4 linked regions of the Homo sapiens genome follow. The protein of the gene in region 1 purifies or fractionates together with the protein of each later gene. This does not show direct contact. Each region holds a gene or a part of one and is shown on either strand. Other genes may lie near its edges.

What was found. The genes of interacting proteins can lie anywhere in the genome.
Region 2: the proteins of DNAAF5 (region 1) and GFPT1 fractionate together in Homo sapiens (co-fractionation; one large-scale study listed by BioGRID). This does not show direct contact.
Region 3: the proteins of DNAAF5 (region 1) and ACTR3 fractionate together in Homo sapiens (co-fractionation; one large-scale study listed by BioGRID). This does not show direct contact.
Region 4: the proteins of DNAAF5 (region 1) and XPO6 fractionate together in Homo sapiens (co-fractionation; one large-scale study listed by BioGRID). This does not show direct contact.

What each region holds. Positions count from the first base shown.
Region 1 is NC_000007.14:777,071-782,198, forward strand, and holds part of DNAAF5 (dynein axonemal assembly factor 5), read left to right. Parts: intron 1-2,882; coding exon 2,883-3,074; intron 3,075-5,128. UniProt on the Homo sapiens protein: Cytoplasmic protein involved in the delivery of the dynein machinery to the motile cilium.
Region 2 is NC_000002.12:69,338,131-69,343,258, reverse strand, and holds part of GFPT1 (glutamine--fructose-6-phosphate aminotransferase [isomerizing] 1), read left to right. Parts: intron 1-1,009; coding exon 1,010-1,107; intron 1,108-4,693; coding exon 4,694-4,814; intron 4,815-5,128.
Region 3 is NC_000002.12:113,958,558-113,963,685, reverse strand, and holds the end of ACTR3 (actin-related protein 3), read right to left. Parts: 3' UTR 1,090-5,128; downstream 1-1,089. UniProt on the Homo sapiens protein: ATP-binding component of the Arp2/3 complex, a multiprotein complex that mediates actin polymerization upon stimulation by nucleation-promoting factor (NPF).
Region 4 is NC_000016.10:28,110,369-28,115,496, reverse strand, and holds part of XPO6 (exportin-6), read left to right. Parts: intron 1-2,446; coding exon 2,447-2,593; intron 2,594-3,490; coding exon 3,491-3,680; intron 3,681-5,128. UniProt on the Homo sapiens protein: Mediates the nuclear export of actin and profilin-actin complexes in somatic cells.

The DNA of each region.
Region 1 (5,128 bases):
TCTAGTTGCAGGAAAACAAGCTCAGGCCCCCACTGATTCTACAGGATGATGAGTTGTAGAATTATCTCATTATATGTTACAATGTAGTCATAGAAATAACGTGTACAATAAACGTAACGCACGTGACTCATCCTGAAACCATCTCACCCCCTGGTCCATGGAAAATTGTCTTCCATGAAACCAGCCCCTGGTGCCAAAAAGGTTGGGGACTGCTACCTCAGAACACCGAAGACCCGGCGCTAAGGGCAGCCTCGCACCCAGCCCGGGAAGGAAGTGCCGATAATAGAACCACCTCAAAGTTACCTTTATTGAGGCGTGTTTAAGATCCTCAAAAAGCTAAAAGAACAACATCCACTAAAAAACAAGTTGAGAAACAAGAAGACAAGCAGGAATAAAGAACAGATGGAAACGGAAGCGATCGCTGGGAAGTCCGGAGTGACACGGAATGGTGTGCTGGCACTACTTTGAGGAAAGGAGTTACCCAGCGAGGGAGAAAGGGGATGGGGTGGGCGGGAAGCGGCCACTCAGGCGTTCCTGATTAGCTCTACTTAATGTGATTATCTATATTTTGTGTATTTATGCCAGAAATGTTTAGCAGTTTTTAAAAGATGGTTCTTGCTAATTCCCGGAAATGAATGGAGTCATCGGAACTTCACACTCTGTGTACTGGGTCAACTCTAGACTGAATGTGGCTGAAAACAAAGTTAGTGACGTGAAAGCCAGGAATGTGGAATTCCTCAAGATCACGAGACAGAGAGGGGTGCAAGGCCTGGAGTGGGCGAAGGACACGGGACGGGGAGGGACGCGGGGCCTGGAGCGGGCAGAGGACACGGGATGGAGAGAGGTGCCGAGTGGGCCGAGAGGCTCCCGGGCTTTTCTGAATCCCAGGAGAAGAGAATGGAGGAGAGATGGTGCCTCAGAATCTTCCAGAACTGGAGACAGACATGAATTTTCAGATTCACAGTACACACGGCGCTGGGCAGAAAAACCGCCGCCTGCTGAACTCTGAGGTCCGGGGGCCTTTGTCACTCATTCTCTCACCTTTGCTTTTCTGTTTTTATTCTTTAGTAACAAACATCCTGTTCCCACTGACTCTGGAACAAGTTCAGTCCATGCGATTGTTGGGAATTCACTCACTTTTTAAAACAGGAGCTGGCGGAAAGGCTGCACGCGTTTGGGCATCTGAGCGCATTTGGGCATCTGGGCCACGGCCCCCTGTTTATTTTCACTACAAAAGGTTCCTTGAGAGGCCCCTTGCCTATTAGTGCCAGCTCTGGGCTTCCCAGGGTGAAGTGTTGGATGAATCATGGCCTCCTTGGTGGGGAAGGAAGGATGTCCTGAGTTGGGAGCACAGACATCCAGGCCTCCCAGGACAGACAGACACAAACATGAACAGCAGACAGGCCAGCGTGAGCCGATTCTGCCTGGCTTAGTCGTGCATGAAAGGAACCCTAAACTGGTACAAAAGTGGACCTGCAGGCCATCCAGGGAGTGACCATCGTAAAAACACAATAGCCAGTGCCACTCTGTGTACTTCCATAGTCGACCGCGCCAGCAGGAGGCCTCGGAGGATCCTGTCCGGGCCCATAGATGTTTGCTAGCGGGACAAGCTTGGGTGAGTTGAGCATCTGACTCCGTCCTTCCTCCTGAGACACGTGCAGCGAGGGCACCCACTGTGCAGCGAGGGCTCCCGCCGTGCAGTGAGCATACCCCCTGTGCAGTGAGGGCACCTGCCGTGCAGTGAGCATACCCCCCATGCAGCAAAAGCACCCCCCATGCAGCGAGGGCTCCCGCTGTGCAGTGAGCATACCCGCTGTGCAGTGAGGGCACCTGCCGTGCAGGGCTGCTTCAGGGTTTGGCACCATAATGCCTGGATGTGCTCCGTGGCTTCCTCCTTGGTGCCTGTGTTTGGTGGCTGGAAGGCCCAGCACCCTCAGGGCCCAGAACCCTCAGGGAAGTGCCTGGGCATCTGCCAGGAATTAACCCACTGGGTCCCACTTGTCTCAAAGCCTGGCTTGGTAGGATGGCCTGAACTTTGGATGTTTTTCATGCCTTTCGTTACATAGGATCCTCTTGCTGAGGGTGGATCATGCCCTCCACATTGCAAAAGCATCAGAGACCCAGCCCACCCTCGCGTCTGCAGCGGGAAGATGGGCCTGGTGCCAGGCGCGGGCAGCCGCCCCTCCCAGCGTCGGGAAGATGGGCCTCATGCCAGGCATGGGCAGCTGCCCCTCCCAGCGTCGGGAAGATGGGCCTCCGGGTGGTTTTGCGACTCAGTCATCTGCGAATTTCCGGATGCTGCACAGAAGGGGGTGCCAAAGTTTTTTTAAGATGATGTAAAAAAAGCATAAATTTGATAAAAATTATGTCCATTAACCTCATAAGTTTCTACCCATCGGGAAGGATCATCCTTCTGTTTTCAGCAGCAGAAAACTGACCACAGTAGGGGGTTGTCTGTCACTGAGTCCTCAGCTCTGGTGGGAGGGCAGGGTCAGAGCTGGGCAGGGTGGCCAGCTCGGGGATCTGAGCATCTGGGAGCAGGAGGTGGAGGGCCAGGTGAGCACACAGCTGCGAGGAGGTGGAGGACCAGGTGAGCACACAGCTACAGCTACAGGGAGGCTCTGCGCCTGCAGGACAGGTTATTACAGGGGCCGCAGCAGGGCCTGGGCCGCCTCCACTCTGTTGGCTGGGGTTCAGGGGTCCCAGGTCGCCAGGAGCACCTTGCATGTGGCTCGGGATGCACGGAGTCTCCCGTGAGGTGTGGGTTTCTTAGGACCCCAGGGCAGGTGTCCCATGGGAGTATGAACTAAATGCCTTTGTGGACGTTTAGACGTGAAATGTCTGCTCTAGACTCACACACCTGTCTCGCTCCCTCCTTCCAGAACTCTTAAAACGCCTAGATGACGTGTCCAACGATGTGAGGATGGCAGCCGCCTCCACCTTGGTCACCTGGCTGCAGTGTGTCAAGGGTGCCAACGCAAAATCCTACTATCAGAGCAGTGTCCAGTACCTGTACCGAGAGTTGCTGGTTCACCTTGACGATCCAGAGAGGGCCATCCAGGATGCAATTTTAGGTGAGACTCCGACGGCTTGGCCTTCGTTCCGATGCCTGCTTTCGGCGCCTGCCACGGGCATCTGTAGCTGAGCCGTGTGACCGGCCACAGGGCCCTGGGGCACAGGAGGGGCCTCAGCTCCGGCCTGGCACACTCTTGAGTTCTTGGCAAACCCTGAGAGCGGCTGTCTTTGTGGTGATAGCTGCTGACATTTCCTCTAACAGAAATCAAAACTGAGAGTATTCTAGAATACTTGTTAGTTGTTTAAAATAACAATAGTAAGCCCAGTATATATTGACACAGATGGCTTGTGTTTTTGAAAAATACTTTCCAAAACAAAATCATCTGCAAGAACGATTTTTGCAAATGTCTTAAATGTGTAGCTTGATGGAAGACACTGGACTTTCACATCTTCCATACAGTCAGTCATGATGTGTATGGCTCTGGCTGAAATACGTGGAAAATAATCTGGCCTCGCCTGTGGCTTCAAGTGTAGTTGGACAAAAGAAGAGTATTTTAGTAGCCTTTTCAGATAGGCGTGGGACTTCTTCAATACCACGCCAACAGCGACACAGGCCGTCCCTTGAAGGTCACTCACAGCACAGGGCCTGAGGCCACACACCACAGAGCCTTCCACGCTCAGTGCATTAAAATCCGCTGGTCCATCTCACACTTGGAATGTAACGATTTGCTTTTTTTTTTCTTTTTTTTTTTTTTGTTTTGTTTTGTTGTTGGTGAATATAATGACGTTGTTCTTTTTTTTAATAAAATTTGTATTTTTAATTTTTGTGGGTACACATAGGTGTATATAAGGCATGTGTGATACTGTGATACAGGCATGCAGTGTGTGTAAATCACATTGGGGAAATGGGGTCCCCGTCACTTCAAACACTTACACTTTCTTTGTGTTACAAATAATTCAGTGATACTTTTCGTTATGTTTAAATGTGTGATAAATTATTGTTGACCATAGTCACCCTGTTGTGCTATCAAATACTAAATCTTACTCATTCTGTTTTTGTACTCATTAACCATCCCCACCTCTTCCCCCGGCCCCATTCCTCTTCCGAGCCTCTGGGAGCCATCCTTCTGCTCTATCTCCATGAGTTGAATTATTTTTATTTTTAGTTCCCACAAATGAGAATGTGCGGAATTTGCCCTTCTGTGCCTGACTTATTTCACTTAACATAGCGACCTCCACTTCCCTCCATGTTGATCCAATGACTGGATCTCATTTCTTTTGTGGCCGGATAATATTCCACTGCGTGCGCTCCACGTTTTCCTTCTCCCTTCATCTGTCCGTGGACACCCCGGTTGCTTCCACACCTTGGCTGTCGGAACAGTGGGGCATTCGGCGTGCGCGTGCAGCTCTCCCCCATAGCTGAATTCCTCTCTTTTGGGTATTTGCCCAGAAGTGGGATTGCCGGGCTGTATGGGGCTCTATTTTTAGTTTTGGAGGGACCTCCAGACTGTTCTCCCAGCGGTGCTCATTTACATTCCCACCAGCAGCGTGAGGGTTCCCTTGTCTCCACATCCGCGCCGGGACTTGTTTCCGCAGCCATTTTAACTGGGGTCAGAGGATGTCTCACTTGTTTCTATGTGCATTTCTCTGAGGAGCGGTGGTGGTGGGCACCTTTTCAGACGCCTGTTTGTCATTTCCATGCTGTCTTTTGAGAGCTGTCTGTTCAGGTCTTTTACCCATTTTTAATTGGATTATTAGATTGTCTGCTATTGAGCCTGAGCTCCTCATATATTCCAGTGATTAATCCTTGTCAGGCGGCGGTTCTAAGATACAGTCTCCCATCCCGTACCCGCGGGCTGTCCCTGCGGCTGTACTCTGCTCATTCTTCCCTTTGCTGTGTGGAAGCTTTGGGCCTGGATGTGCTGACTTTGCCTTTTGCCTCCTTTGGAAAATACTTAGACCTTCCCCGCGCAGCTGCGTCCGGTTTCCCGGCGTGGCTACATCCGGTTATGCGATGTCGGATCTTCCTGGTGTGGCCGCCTCCCGTCGCGCAGCGTCAGAAACTCGGATCTTCGCGGCGTGGCCGCCTCCCGACACGCGGCGTCAGAAACTC
Region 2 (5,128 bases), on another chromosome or scaffold:
TTACTTGGTGGGTGATTAGGGAATTTTAGTTGACCAGTTGAATGAATGTTGAATGAGAATTTCTCACAGATAGAAAACTAGCCTGTGTGGAAGGATTTCTGGACAAGACACATGGAGAACAACATGTAAATAGCTATAGAAACTGAAAATGAAAAAGAGGACAGACTTCATTGGAGGGTCTTTATGTTTTTAAAGGATCACTGTAAGAGATCCTTCTGGTAGCATATGGAGAGCAGACTCCAGGAGGTGGAGAACAGAAGAGAGAACTGGAGAATGTTGCTGTCGTCCAGGGAGAGATGCTGGGTTTGAAGATAAATGTGGAGGGATCAGAACAATCAAGCATTTTGACTGAAGCATTAGGGGAATGGGGACGGCAAAGACTGAGAGGAGAGTGGGTTTATGTTACTCTACAGAGCACCTTTCTGGGCACCAGAGGGGAAATAAACGTAACTGAGATAATGTTTTTCCCAGACAGGTTTATTGAGACATAATTAGATATAATAAAATTCACCATTCCTAGTGTATAACTCTAAGTTTGACAAACCTCTACAACATAGTCATAATCATAACCTCTACAAAGTCAAGATGTAGAACAGTTCCATCACTCCCAAAATTTCCTTGCACCCTATTGTTGTCAACCCCTCCTCCAGCTCCAGCCCTCTACATCTAATGATCTGTTTTCTGTGTCCCTCTACTTTTGCCTTTAAGATAACTTTCAAAGAGAAGAATGTAAAAATAACTAACTAAGGTAGAATGTAATAAATACTGTAATTGTGTGGGGATGTAGAGAGGTGAGTAAGGTCAGTTACAAGTTTGGGGGCGCCAGTGAAGTTGTGACTTATTTAATTTACTTTTCAAAATTACAGAGAACTGTGCTTTCCAAGAGGAATATTAATTCTTTAAAACAGCAGTATTCTTCCTCATATTGGCAGTGGATACTCACAAAATGCGATTGCCTAGTTCACATGGTTCTTTGCTAAATAATTATGTACACAAACTTTTATTTCAGTGAATTTGGGTGGTTTGAAGGATCACATAAAGGAGATCCAGAGATGCCGGCGTTTGATTCTTATTGCTTGTGGAACAAGTTACCATGCTGGTGTAGCAGTAAGTGCTTTTTAAAATTTTAATTATGTTGAATATTAGAGAATATCTGTAGACCAAGTAGTAGTCTAATAACATACTGTGTAAAACTATGTTTTGTTAATGTGTTATCTTTTCCCTTTTGTGATAAAAAAAGAAGGTAAGGGGAGAAATTTACCAGCTGCTTGGAATTATTTATCCATGGAAGATCTGTAGAAAAGGTCCCTAGATATACAGATAGACCTCCTGCAACGGACTTCATGAAAGGCCAAGAGGGGGAGAGTTTGTGTACTGTCCTAGACTTGTAGCCTAGGGAGCTTGCCTACATGTGTAAGAGCCATCGTTGGGTTTTGCTTAGCATTGTTCACTTGCCCTAGACAGATGGCCTGCATCATGTGTGAACCTCAGTGCAATTTTACTTTGTGGGCACATTACTGCAAAGAAAGGTAGTCTGCTTTTTTTTTTAAATCAGATTTTATTCTTTAAATTGTTCTTTTAGAAGCTGAAATTCAGTATCAAAAATGTGTATTGTCAGTGCAGAAGCATAGGTGTATGAGGGTCTTTTATTCCAATAAAAGACCAATATTTGCCCACGTAGTTTCCTTAGAAAGAGACAGTTTATGTGTTGCTGATGTCAACTGTTATGAACAGAAGACCTTTACATTCAATTTCTGCTTTTAGGATTGACTTCCAAAGTTCCTGACATAACTTATTTATTTGCTGAGGCATAAATATTTATTAGGAGCCATTTATTTAAGCAGTGAGTGAAACTATCTGGTCACCTGCCCTTGCATCTCAACAAGCTTTGCTCTTTTCTAAGACTACACCAAATACCTCCTCCCCTCCTCCCCCAAAATTATATGGTCCTAAACAGAAAGTCTATGTAATGTTGAAGGGTAGAGGTCTAAAAAAGTGATTGTTTTGTCTGGGTGTTGTGGCTCACACCTGTAATCCCAGCACTTTGGGAGGGCAAAGTGGGAGGATCAGTTGACCCTAGGAGTTTGAGCCTGGGCAACATAGCGAGACCCCGTCTCTACCAAAAAAAAAAAATTATCGGGGTGTGGTGGCAACTCCCTGTAGTCCTAGCTACTTGGGAGGCTGAGGCAGGAGGATCGCTTGAGTCCAGAAGGTGAGGCTGCAGTGAGCCTAGATTGCACCGCTGAACTCCAACCTGGGCGACAAAACCAGGCCCTGTCTCAAAAAAAAAAAAAAATTTTGAACACGGGAAGAAGAAAGATGTAAACACGTTAGTGGTGGCTTAGATCTATTACTGAATGAGCCCTGTATTCAGAAATAGAAAATTTGATTAAACGCTTCATCTAACGCTAAGACAATTTGGGGGCAGAAATTATATACTCTGTTAGAATTCTCTAATGTAAGATTTTTTGTTGTTTTGTGGATGCCAAGACTACTGTAGTAAACAAACATTAGAAATCCCCCTGTGGTTTATCAGACAAAATAGTACCATTTATTTTATCCTGTTTTACATTTTTGTTGTTGTTTCATGACACATTTACATGTTTTTTTTTTAGTATCTATATCCTGAATAACTGACTACACTCTAATCATTCTTAACTCATTTATGCCAGAGGTTGCAAAATTTTTTTGTGAAAAATCATCAGACCTTGGTGCTGACCTTGAGCAGTAGGATATAAATAACTCCCACATGCTTAACGTTCCAGTGATGGAACACTAGGCATAAATGATTTAAGTATAGCCTACTTAATATGCTTTTCAAAATTTTAATTTTCTCTAGGTTTTGTAGTGGCATTCAGTGGAATTTATAGCATTAAGTTACTCTATTGTGATGGAAATATGTCATTTTGTGTATTTATAAAAAGTTGTTCGCAGCTGGGTGCAGTGGTGTGTGCCTATAGTTCCAGCTCCTCGGAAGCTGGGGCAGGAGGATCACTTGAGACCAGGAATTTGAGGCCACAGTGCCCTAGAATCATGCCTCTGAATAGCTGCTACACTCCAGCCTGGGCAACAAACCAAGACCCCATCTTTAACCAAAAAAAAAAAAAAAAAAAAAAAAGTTGCCCCAACTAAAATAATAAACTATTAATTAGCACAGATAAATCTTGAGATTACTTTTTTGGGGTTTATTACTTTTAAATATCTGGTAAGCCTCCAGATTTCTATCTTTCTCTCTTCTTTCCCCATCTTTTTATTTTGAAGAATATGATTCCAATGTAACATTTATATTATAAACTGGGTGAAAAGGTTTGGTTTACATTTATTTGTGGGAAAACATTTAGCATTTTAGTGTCGGTAACTTAATTATGTATAATAAAATATATTAATGGAAAAGAATAATAAAAAATAGGAGCATTTTATCTTCAATGATTTTCTTTACATGATGTTGTAATATTGTTAAAAAATGCCAAATCAAAGTTATTTAATATTTTTGGGGGAACCAAGTAAAACGATTCTGTTCAAATTTGTGGGCAAGCAAAAGTTAAGGGCTATGAAATAAGGGCACCTTTAAGTTCTTTATTGCTGAGAAGGAGGAAAGCTGAGATGGGTGAGAGATGGGGAGGGCCACTTGCCTGAAGAGGCTGGTGAAAGGCTGTCAGGTTAGGTGAGCTCCACAGTTAGAATTAAAGCAACACTAAATGTATACATTGGTTGAGCTTAAAGTTTTTGCTGCCTAAAAGATAATTTTTCTGTTTTTGATTTTCCGATGTTTAGTGTAAAAATAATTAGAATGGAAATTTACTGAAATGAAGGTTAAACTACGTTTTGCACAGAGGCATACTGCTCCCTACTTCATTCCCCCTGCCCCATGCCACAAAAGTTGAAAATAGTGAGCCCTGTTAAACAAGATTTCTAAAATATATTGACTTCTTTTGGGAAATGGTCATATTTATGAATACGTTGTACTTTTAAAGTGTTTAATTTTTCTCTATATATTTGTACATCTGTTACCTGATTTGAAACCCCTCCCTAACATGGGTATTACATGAATTTTCATTTTAAAGATTAGGAATTGGGAGGTTAGAGATAACACACAAGCTGACTCAGAACCATGCTCTTTCCACTTCTCAAAACGTTTTATATGTGTGGGTATGTTTCCTTATAAGAATGTATGTGTCCAGGCGCAGTGGCTCATGCCTGTAATCCCAGCACTTTGGGAGGCTGAGGCGAGCAGATCATGAGGTCAGGAGATTGAGACCATCCTGGCCAACATGGTGAAACCCCATCTCTACTAAGCTGGGCATGGTGGCGCACGCCTATAGTCCCAGCTACTCAGGAGGCTGAGGCAGGAGAATTGCTTGAACCCGGGAGGCGGAGGTTACGGTGAGCCGAGATGGCACCACTGCACTCCAGCCTGGCGACAGAGCGAGACTCCGTCTCAAAAAAAAAAAAAAAAGGAATGTATACATAGATAGTTGTCTAAAGAGACTGATAGTAAAATGTTAGCCATGCTTATCTCAAGTGGTAGGATTTTGATTTTTTTTTTTTAAATATTTTAATCTGGGTTGTTTTTATTTTCTAACGTGTCATTTTTGTAATCAGAAAAAGCAAAAACTATACATTGAATCCAAAGAAGTCCGATGAAAGAGTATTTGAAGGAAAGTTCTGTGACCAAGTCATATTTTCTCTGCAGACACGTCAAGTTCTTGAGGAGCTGACTGAGTTGCCTGTGATGGTGGAACTAGCAAGTGACTTCCTGGACAGAAACACACCAGTCTTTCGAGATGATGTTTGCTTTTTCCTTAGTCAATCAGGTGTGTTAATTTTAAAGACTTAAAAGGAAGGAAAGTTATTCTTTCTAATAATTCTAGCATATCTTGGCAAAAGCTGATATTTAAAGATAAACTGGCATTGCAGATGACTTGACGAATACAGATTTATTTTAATGTTACATAATTCTTTATGAATTAGTAAAAATGAACACCTTTTGTGTTCAAAGAGCTGGATTTTCAATGACAGAGAAGGAAGAGAGATCCTGACAAGCCATATTACTTAAAGTTTTATAAATTTATTAAGTGGATGTTTTGTATTTTATTTAAAACAAGTAATATTGTTGAAAGTGTGGTCA
Region 3 (5,128 bases), on another chromosome or scaffold:
CTTAAAAGGAAGATAACTTTATTCAACAAATGTTTAAGCATCTGCCACATGCCAAGCATTGTATTTTATAACATCATTACAAACTTCCCTTTTATTTGTAGCCTAAAAATGTTTTACCAGTCTTCAAAAGCCAAGTGAGGTACTTTCTAATTCATAAAAGATCCACTTAGGTCACTGGCAAGTTGAACTTTCAGCATTAGTGAAATCAGAAACGAGGTACACAAACTTAGCACCAATGTGGAGATACATAGCCAAAATGTGAACGACCTCAAGTATGCCCCGTGGAGAAGCTAAATTAGGCAGTCTGAAATCCCCATAGTTTTTCTGTATATGGAATGTCGTTTTTAAGAGCTCATTGCCTATTCATAAAGTCCAATCCAATCTCAAAAAGACTGCTGAGTTTTAGGCTCCTTCCTTAGTTCAGCACATTAGCCTGGTAACTATCTGGTAACTATAGTATCAGACATGACTTGGTCATCTGATACCTCCCTCTAGTAGTCTAGCACAGGAATCTTGCTATCAGCTTTCCCAATAGAATGAGTCAGAGAAGCTAAGAAATGTTGCCAAATTAATTTTGAAAAAAATTTAATAAACCATATGCTATTCAGTAAAATATCAAAAAAATTATAACCAGTAAGTTCTATTCTGCAACTACCTGTGTGGTCTTTGCAAAGTCACTTTTCCACAATGTTATTTATGTCAATCATGTGTGTGATTTCACCCTGAACTGCATCAACTTTTTTAGCCAATGTTTGTGTTTGAGGGTGTGTTTGAAGGTGTCAGATATCCTTCAGTCTTCTCTCCCACTCTTCTCCTCACTTCTCCTAATCACAATATTCTAATCCCCTCCCCAATTGCTGTAACTCAAGTTGCTTCTGCCATATCTAAAATATCATCCCCACCTACTCTCCATCTACTAAAACATTCATCTTTCAAGGTTTGGGCTAAGAAAAATCAGTCTACTGCAGTAGAAACTACCCCACTAGTGCTTTAGTCATCTCATGAATGTATACATTATTCCAACTAATCATTTTAGCATTTAAAACAAGTCTCAGATTTTCTTGTTGCTCAGGAATTTATTTGGGAAAGATCCCATGTACCCACAATAAGAAAAAGATGTGTGGTTCCAATTCCGATATCGACTTTCTAATATAATTCCAAATAAGATTAACAATTTACTGCAACCTTGAATCTTATTAATTAAAAATGGAGGAAGTTTAGAATTAAGTCATCTCTAAATCAAGTGGTTTAACATGGGATCTGGACAATATCAAAATTGATCAATAAAAGCCAGAGGGAGAAATGAGGCCTGTTTCTACTGTTAATGTTGAATGTTACATTTCAGGACATGTCAATTACCTTGTACAACAATCTGATTTAGAGCCTGTGATCATTTACACTACAGAGATTTTGAAATGACTGAAGGCTTAGATAATTATTTAAGACCTGCTTCAGAAAAGTCATGATCACTTAGTAATCCCCCACTACCTTACGCAGAATGTCACTTCTAAGGTAGAAACTAGTGGAACAGAAAAAAAGTCGTAATTCGGTCATATTTGACAAATATGGGTATTTTGAAGGAACAAAAGTTGTATACTCATGTAATTCAAAGTTTTATTTTAACATGAAAAATAATTTTTACTCATTCATTCATCAAACACATCCACTAAACTACTATATGCCAAGCAATATGTCAGGCACTGGAAATATGAAATGAATAAAGCAGATGCTACTGTCGAATTACTTTCATCTGTTGTTGGATGTAACACTTAGGTAAAAATTTTAGGAGCAAAGTACTAATTTTTAAACAATAGATCCACTTTTATAAGCCCCACTTTCACCTTACATAGCTGGACTTCTCCCTCTAAACAACTAACACTACCATTTTTATGAAGAGAAATTCCGCACTTACTATCTCTCAAATCTTATCTAGGCAAAATATTTGTCCCTCCTCTAAGAGTGCCTTTACTATTAGACTAAGCCAAGGACAGAATATTTATTCATCTTTATGCACAGTACTTGAACCACAGTAGACAGTCAATCAATGCTTCTGGGATTGAAGGCTCAAAACTTGATGCAATATATAGGTAATATAAGTGAATGTTGGTGCTTGAATAAAAGAGAAACTTTATTTTAATTCAGCATCTTAGTTTTAATGTAATTATAAAAGTCACCAAAAATTGACAGAACACTAGAAAACAAGTAATTGCTAAATCAAAATAGAATATCGTATACTTTTAATCTTTCATTTTTTTTCTTTCAGGTTTTTCAGTTGCCTTCTTTCCTAGATCACGTATTTCTATCGTTGTTCCTTTTTTATTGTTCCTGTGACCACTGGAGCACTAGTAATAAATCCTTAACTCAAATAGGTTATATTTAATTTCAGCACCCAAGCTCCAAATGCATCAGCTAAACTGGGTTATAGCATGGAGAATACCTCAGACGACCACAGATTTTATTTTTGTTAAGATTCTATCAAGACTGAGGCAAATTATAATAAAAGTTCTCATATCATAGAAAACAAATTACGTGGAAAAGGATAAACATTTATACAGTACTGAAGCGTTATCAACAATGAGTAGCAGAAATTCTTTTTCACTGAAGTCCAAAAGCCATCCCAGCCCTCCAGCAGATCTAAAGATTCTTGCTAAAGGTCAATTCAGGATATAGACCTAATACAAGAACAAGGTATTTACTGTCAAGATTTGCTATGAAAGTTCCACGTAACTTGTAACAACTCTGTCCTTGGCCAACTATATATACAAGGTGCTGTTACAATGAAATATATTTTAAGGCACAGTATTCCAAACTGAGTAGAACATTTTGCTCCCAGAGTCTGCACAGATTTTGGATTATTTATACCAGCTAATAGAATTAGTACCAATTAACCCGAGTTGGAAATCTGGGTGGTAACAGACTTCAGAGGGCTATCCAAGGTACTCATGCCTGGTGACTATGAACTACGAAAGATCAGAAAGAATGGGTCACAGGAATCAAGGTTGAGCTGGTAAGAAAAGGGGGAAAAGACTGGACTTCAGTATTGACAGATTAGCCCAGAATGAAGAGGAACAAAAACATCCTTTACTATGGTACAAATAAGCTTTATAACACAAATAATCTTCTCAATAATTTTATAAACATTCTAGTATCATCTTTAGGGTTATCTGAAAGAAGTTTCTATAGATATATTCTCTAGTACTTTTCTGTAGAAATTAAAAATAAAGATCATAATTGGCCTATTATCCCTGTATTTCATATTATTTCTAAAAATATTCCTAGAAATATCTGCAAGAATAGTTATTTTAATCTTTTAAGTAGCTGTGAAAACAAACCAAAAAATTGTATTGGGGGGTCTGAATAACCACTTTATCTCCTATAGAAAAGAAGATAGGTAAGAAGAGGATGAGTACTTATAGTAGGTGCCATGAATTAATGTCTAAGGGTGAAGATGTGAAATTTGCTCACTTTTTGAAAAGCAGGCATCAAGTTAGATAATGATCATTGATTTTATTTGTCCATTACTATTTCCCACTTGATCAAAGCACTGCCTATTAAAAAGGATAAATCAGATAATACCTTTACTACCACTAATGAATCAATAGAAAAGGCTAGGTTTTGCAGTCAGAATCTACTACACTGCTAATATTGCTATTAATAAGCTACATTATATTCTAACAACTCAAAGAAATTGCAGGATAATCCAGTATAATGCCTTTACCTTATATATAAATTGAATCAAGGTCCAGAGAGTTCAAATAATTTGTCCAAAATAATACAAATATATTTTCCAAGTTTTAACAAAAAACAAAGTTCGAGGAGCTATATCATCAATTATCAGAATCAGAATTAAAAATTAAATCACTGGCTTCAGTTAGTGCTTTTGCTACCATGCTCACGTTGCTTGATATCTAATCAATGTTACAGACTATTTAGTTCACCTTGGCCAACCTCTACATATTTCCAGCTGAAGTTGCTTTAAGTTGAAAAAACGGTATACAATCACAGAGGAGAGATATAAAGAAACAAGAATGCTGCTACCATCCTATTAGGGTTCACTCCTCTAAAAGTAGAGCAAAGGGATATCAGAACATACACAAGAAGGGCTGGAGTTTTGTTTCCCCAAATAAGTTAAGCGTAAGCTTCAAGAAAGTTTTTGATCTTCATGTTTTTGTAGCAAACAGTTAAGAACATCTCTGTATAAATATGCCTGAGATTGTCATCAAATAGCTTTATAAACATGTCTTTCTAGCTTATTCACTTAACTACCCAACCATCGCCGGTGGAAAAGACATATTTATGACAATGCTAACAATATTTTATTGGGCCAGGAGCATGACATCTTTACTGCTTATCAATATAGTTCTTTATCAAAAGATCTTTAATAAAAGCAAAGTGCAGAACAGTATATACAGTAAGTTCCTATTTGTGTAAAATAAGAAAGCTACATTTATTTCTACCTACACAGAAAATTACAATACAAGGACATCTAAGACATTCCAAGTAGTCTGTGTAATGATGGAAAAATGAGACAGGCTAGGGAAAAAAACTTACTTTTGCTAATCTACTCTTTGGTACTGTTTGAATAGTATTTTTATAATGTTTGTGAATTACTTTTCCAAGTAAAAAAAGGAGACCTTTGATACTGATGATGATACTACTGTAGGATATAGTTTGTCTTTTACAATCCCATACTCAAAGAATGAAGATTCACAAAAATTATTATAGGATTTTAAATATTCAGATCCACTCTAAACAAAAACTGAAGTTTACTCCCCAATTCTATCTTTAGAGTAAAAACAAAAAACTAAACACTTTATATTCTTTCACTTTTGAATAGACGTATTCCAATCCTAACGTGTTATTTTCATGAATAATGGAGTTCAAGTGTTCACTGATACTGCTAGTAAAAAGCCTATAAAACATTTCCCATTTTCTCTTTCTATAAATAACTGGTAAAATTTTAAGGTCACAAGAAATTTTCTACCATACACATTACAGAGATTTCAATAACTCCCAAATCTCAACAGAAACAGATATCACATACATAAAAACAAAATAGAATTACATTACTTAAAAAAAAAAAACATTAGAAAAGGTAATTCAGTTTTAATTTATTTTCATCACTTTT
Region 4 (5,128 bases), on another chromosome or scaffold:
AAGCTCATTATGGAGACCTGCTCAGAAAAAAAGATTCCTTTCAAAATCTGCTGATTGGCAATGCACCTGGTTACCTAAGGACTCAGATGGAGATGTTCAAAGATATTAGTTTCCATAGTTTCCATGGCTGCTCACACAACATCCATTCTGTAGTTCTGTAGCCCATGGGTCAAGGGGTAATTTTGGCTTTCAAGTCTTACTGTTTCAGAAATACGTTTCATAAGACTATAGCTGCCATAGATGGTGGTTCCTCCAGTGGATCTGGGCAAATAAACTGAAAACCTTCTGGGAAGGATTCACCATTCTAGATGCCATTAAAGACATTCATGATTCATGGAAGCAGATCAAAATATCAGCATTAATGGGAGTTTGGAAGAAGTTGGTTCCCAGCCTCATAGATGACTTTAAGGGGTTCAGGACTTCAGTAAAGAAAGTAACTGCAGATGTGGAAATAACAGGAGAACTAGAGGCGGAGTCTGAAGATGGGATGGAATTGCTGCAATCTCAGGATCAAGCTTGAACAGATGGGGACTTGCTTCTTGTAAATGACCAAAGAAAGTGGGTTTTTGAGATGGAATCAACTGGTGAAGATGCTGTGAACATTGTTGAAATAACAGAGGATTAGAATAACACATAAACTCAGTTGATGAAGCAGCAGCAGGGTTTGAGAGGACTGACTCCAACTTTGAAAGAAGTTCTACTGTGGGCAAAATGCTATGAAACGGCACCGCATGCTCCAGAGAAATATTTCATGAAAGGAAGTCAATCGATGCAGCAAACTTCATTGTTGTCTTATTTTAAGTAATTGCCACAGCCACCCCAACTTTGAGCAACCACCACCCTGTTCAGTCAGCAGCAGTCACTTTCAAGGAAGACCCTTCACCAGCAAAAAGATTACCGCTCTGAAGGCTCAGATGATTGTTAGCATTTTTAGCAATAAACTACTTTTTAACTAAGATATGTACATTGTTTTCTTAGACATAATGCTTATTGCACACTTTATAGACTATAGTGTAAACAAAACATATGCATTGGGAAACAAAAAAATTAGTGTGCCTTGCGTTATTGCATAATTTGCTTTATTGTGGTGGTCTGGAGCTGAACCTGCAGTATCTCTGAGGTATGCCTGTATATCCTTCCAGACTTTTTTCTCTTTTTATGTAATAAGTAATAACTAAGTTTGTAGATAGCTGGAGATATAGCTGCTTTTGCCTAACAGTATGCCTTCATTTTCCTTTACATATGTACAGCAACTTCAGATTGTCAAAATGTCCAGTGGTTTTTTTTTTTTTTTTTTGTGAGGATGTATAATAATTTTCCTATTGCTAGAAATGAGTTCCTTTTATGTCCATCTTACATATGCTAGTGGGCCTGAAGGATAGATTCCTGGAAGTGGAATTACTGAGTCAAAGGTTATATCCATGTTAAAACTGGACAGATTCTATTATGTTATCCTCCAAGTCTGCTATATTACTAGAGCATATATGTGTTTATTCTTTGAATTTTTTTGTAGTTTTAGTCATACATAACATTTTATACATTTTTAAACAGTGTATTGTTTTAATAACAATGTGTTGCTTTCCATAAATTTATGTTGTATTTATAATTATAACTTTGAAAATAGTCCTATCCCATCAGGAATATGTTTCATTATTTTCCTAGCCATTGCTGGACTTCTAGGCTGCCTCCCTTAAAAAATAAAAAATTATAAAGAATTCTGAAATGCACACATTCATGAATGTAGCTTTACCCTTTTAGGTAATCTTCTTAGAGTAAGTATTATAGGTTATAGGTAATCTTAGAGTAAGGGTTAAAGGTTAGGAATATTTTGTGACTTTGGGAAATCATAGTAATTTTTTTCCCGAAGTAATTCTGCCTGCCTTGACTTTTTGGTGTGCTGTTTTTATCTTAGTCTTACCAGCATTAGGTCCCATCTGTAACACGTTTTTCTCCTTTGCTAATTTGAAAGCAACAGTGGTAATTGAACCAAGTATTTGATAGGCATGCTGAAGGGAAAGCAGTAGGAGAGACTGGCCTGAGTGTTAAGGCACAGAAGAGTCGGGGGCTCGGGGAGATCTTGGCTCTGCTGGAACAATTAGTGAGGTGAAGAATTCTAGGACCTGGATGACATGCCAGGGAGTGTGATTTAATAGCTGATAGGGAGCCACTGCAGACTCTAAGCTGAGAAGTGCCTGAGTTCAAGGCTGCTGGTGACTGTGAAGGAGGAACGGGAGGAGGTGATAATGGCTGCGGCAGGAGCTGTGGACATGACAGAGAAGATGGGCTTCTCTTGTAGTCATCATAGGAAAAATTCTTGAGCTAGATAGGGCCTAGGTGGTGTAATTTGGAAACCAAGAATGACACATAGCTTGTGGCTGCCTCAGCAAAGTTCGAATCCCAGTCTTACAGGGATGTGGTGAGCTGACGTGCCCTCTTCCCTCTGCAGGTCCAAGACAAGCTGCTGCTATCTGCGTGCCACTTACTGGTCTCACTGGCCACCACCGTGCGGCCCGTCTTTCTGATCAGCATCCCTGCAGTGCAGAAAGTATTCAACAGAATCACTGATGCCTCTGCCCTGCGACTTGTCGATAAGGTGAGGCCCCAGAGCTCCCCCGGGGTCCCCAGGGCTGTGTGACTGAGACCCAAGGAAGCTGAGGAAGAAGAGTCTGGCCTTTGATTTTGTACTCAGAGCTTACAGGCTGTACCAGCATAGACAGATTTCTTATTGTGTGGCACTGACACAGACTCAGTGATTCTCATCGTGCCCATTCTAAGGCAGGCAGTCAGTGTGCTGATTGAGGCGTGGAAAAGCACCTCCCAGTGTGCAGAAAGGTTTTGCTGCTTTGCAGCCTGGTAATTTCGGCCAGTGTTGTGAGAATTCTCTTTGCATTCTTTCTGATTCAAAGCAGTCTGGTTTTTGTTGTCACTGTTCTGTGTGTGTTCTTTGGGGTTGAGAAGTGCCAGGCAAGTGCATTTTCTTAGAATCCTCAAAGGAGGCTCAAGCTAGAAGTTTAAAAACCACCTAACAGGAGGGAGGGCAGGAAGGTTTGAAGAGGGTACCAGAGGGCACCAGGATGTGATTGCAGGATGTGACCTGGTGCTAGGGGCATGGATTGTCACGGATTCTCCTGCAAGTCCTGCTCTAAGTAGCTTCTCAGAGGACTCAGAAGCCACCAGCTGAACAATGCCTGAGATTCAGTGTCTGCAGTGTGATTTTTCCCTCTCTAATACTTCAAGTATCAGATTAGAGAGGAAACGAGAGGTTAGCTCTGGGTTATGCTAGACCTAGACATGGTGCTATTACTTCATTTCATCTTCCTCCCTAAGTTGCCTTCCAGTTGGACCAAAGGCCTTGCCCAGGTTGCAAGAAACGAGCCTGGGGGCTAGGGTTCCAGGTGTGCAGCCAGCGGGTGCTGAAGGCTGTGTTGGGCATGCCGCACCACGGTCTTTGGCTCTGACCTCTGATGGATGCCTTTGGGGTCTCTTGTAGGCCCAGGTGTTGGTGTGCCGAGCCCTCTCTAACATCTTGCTGCTTCCGTGGCCAAACCTTCCAGAGAATGAGCAGCAGTGGCCCGTGCGCTCCATCAACCACGCCAGCCTCATCTCTGCACTCTCCCGGGACTATCGCAACCTGAAGCCCAGTGCTGTTGCCCCACAGAGAAAGATGCCACTGGATGACAGTAAGTGACCCCTAGGCTAGGACAGCTGGGGAAGGAGGTAGGCAGGCATTGTTCTTTGTGGCAGATGAGATTTGCCCCGGAGGCTCCTGAGGTAAATTTTTTTTGTTCATAGTCCCACAGAGGCTGAGCAGGAAGTCATACTTGGGGGTGGGATCCTGCTACCTTTGGAATTCAGTTAAGACAGCAGCCAGACCTATTTCCAGAATCAAACTGTCCCTTCTCTTATTTAAAATGTAAAAAATGCTGGAGCCCTAAGAAAAAATGGAAGACACTGGTGATGGTGCCTTCTGTCTATAAAATACATCTTAAGGTGGTTATTGATCTATTTCAGATGCTTGTGTAGGCAAACAAAGCAGTTCACCTCTACACGCTGGGAAAATGCGCTCAAGAACTATTTTTCCAGATTGGTTTCAACCTTTTTCCAAATACAGATCTTCCAGAGGTTTTGAAAGAGCTTAGTTTCTTAAAAAATGGCACTTGAAGTTTGCTTGTTTATATTAAAGAAAGAGGGAAAAAAATGAATAAGGAAATATCTCTTTGAAATAACAAATAGTACCGAAATATTTTAAAAATACGAGCTCCTTTCACAAAAAGAAAATAATAGAACATTATTAGATGGTGCCATTTATGGAATGTCAGCAAAAATGCTTTGTGAAATGTCAGAAATAGTAATAAATACTATACTCTTTAAAAAACACTACTTTTATAACTAGGAAGATTAACATATGTGCATTGTACAAATACATTAAAATAGAATAATACAAAGAAGGAAAAAGTAACTCCTAAATCTGACCAGTTTTAATATTTTAGAAAGTAACCATTTTAACCATGCTTCCTTCTTACCTTCCCTTTTCTATTTTAAAATATGCTTCATGGTTACATAGCTGGATGAGAGTAGCTGACATATTGAGGGTATACTGTGTACTAGGCTCTTGCCTTGGTGATTCTATATCCATCGTCAAGTCTCTGGCTATGCCAGTATCAACTTTCAAAGTCTGGTGTTGGTCTCTTCCTGGTTCTAAGTATTTTTCAAAAATCAGTAATTCATTCAGTTCTTACATTAGCCTTATGAGTTCGGTACTGTTAGGATCTTGATTGATGATTAGCATGAGGAAGCTGAGGTCTAGAAGATTAAGGAACTTGCCCAGGGCTTGCATCCAGCTGTTGTGGAGTCATGCTTTATCACGTGTAATGGTCTCCTTTCCGCACTTTATCTTACATGGGAGTTATGTTGGTCTGCATGGGCGAGGATATGCTCAGTGGTAACAAACAACTCCAAAAGTGTAGTGGCTTAATACAAGAAGAAAAAGGATATGTTGTTTGTACTATATGTCCAGCTTGGGTCAGCAGAGTGGGGAGGTCACATAGGGACCCAGGCTGTGGAAGGCTCCATTTCAGTGTGTTCACTCTGGAAGGGATTGTGGTGAATTGCGTAGTGGTTCTTAAAG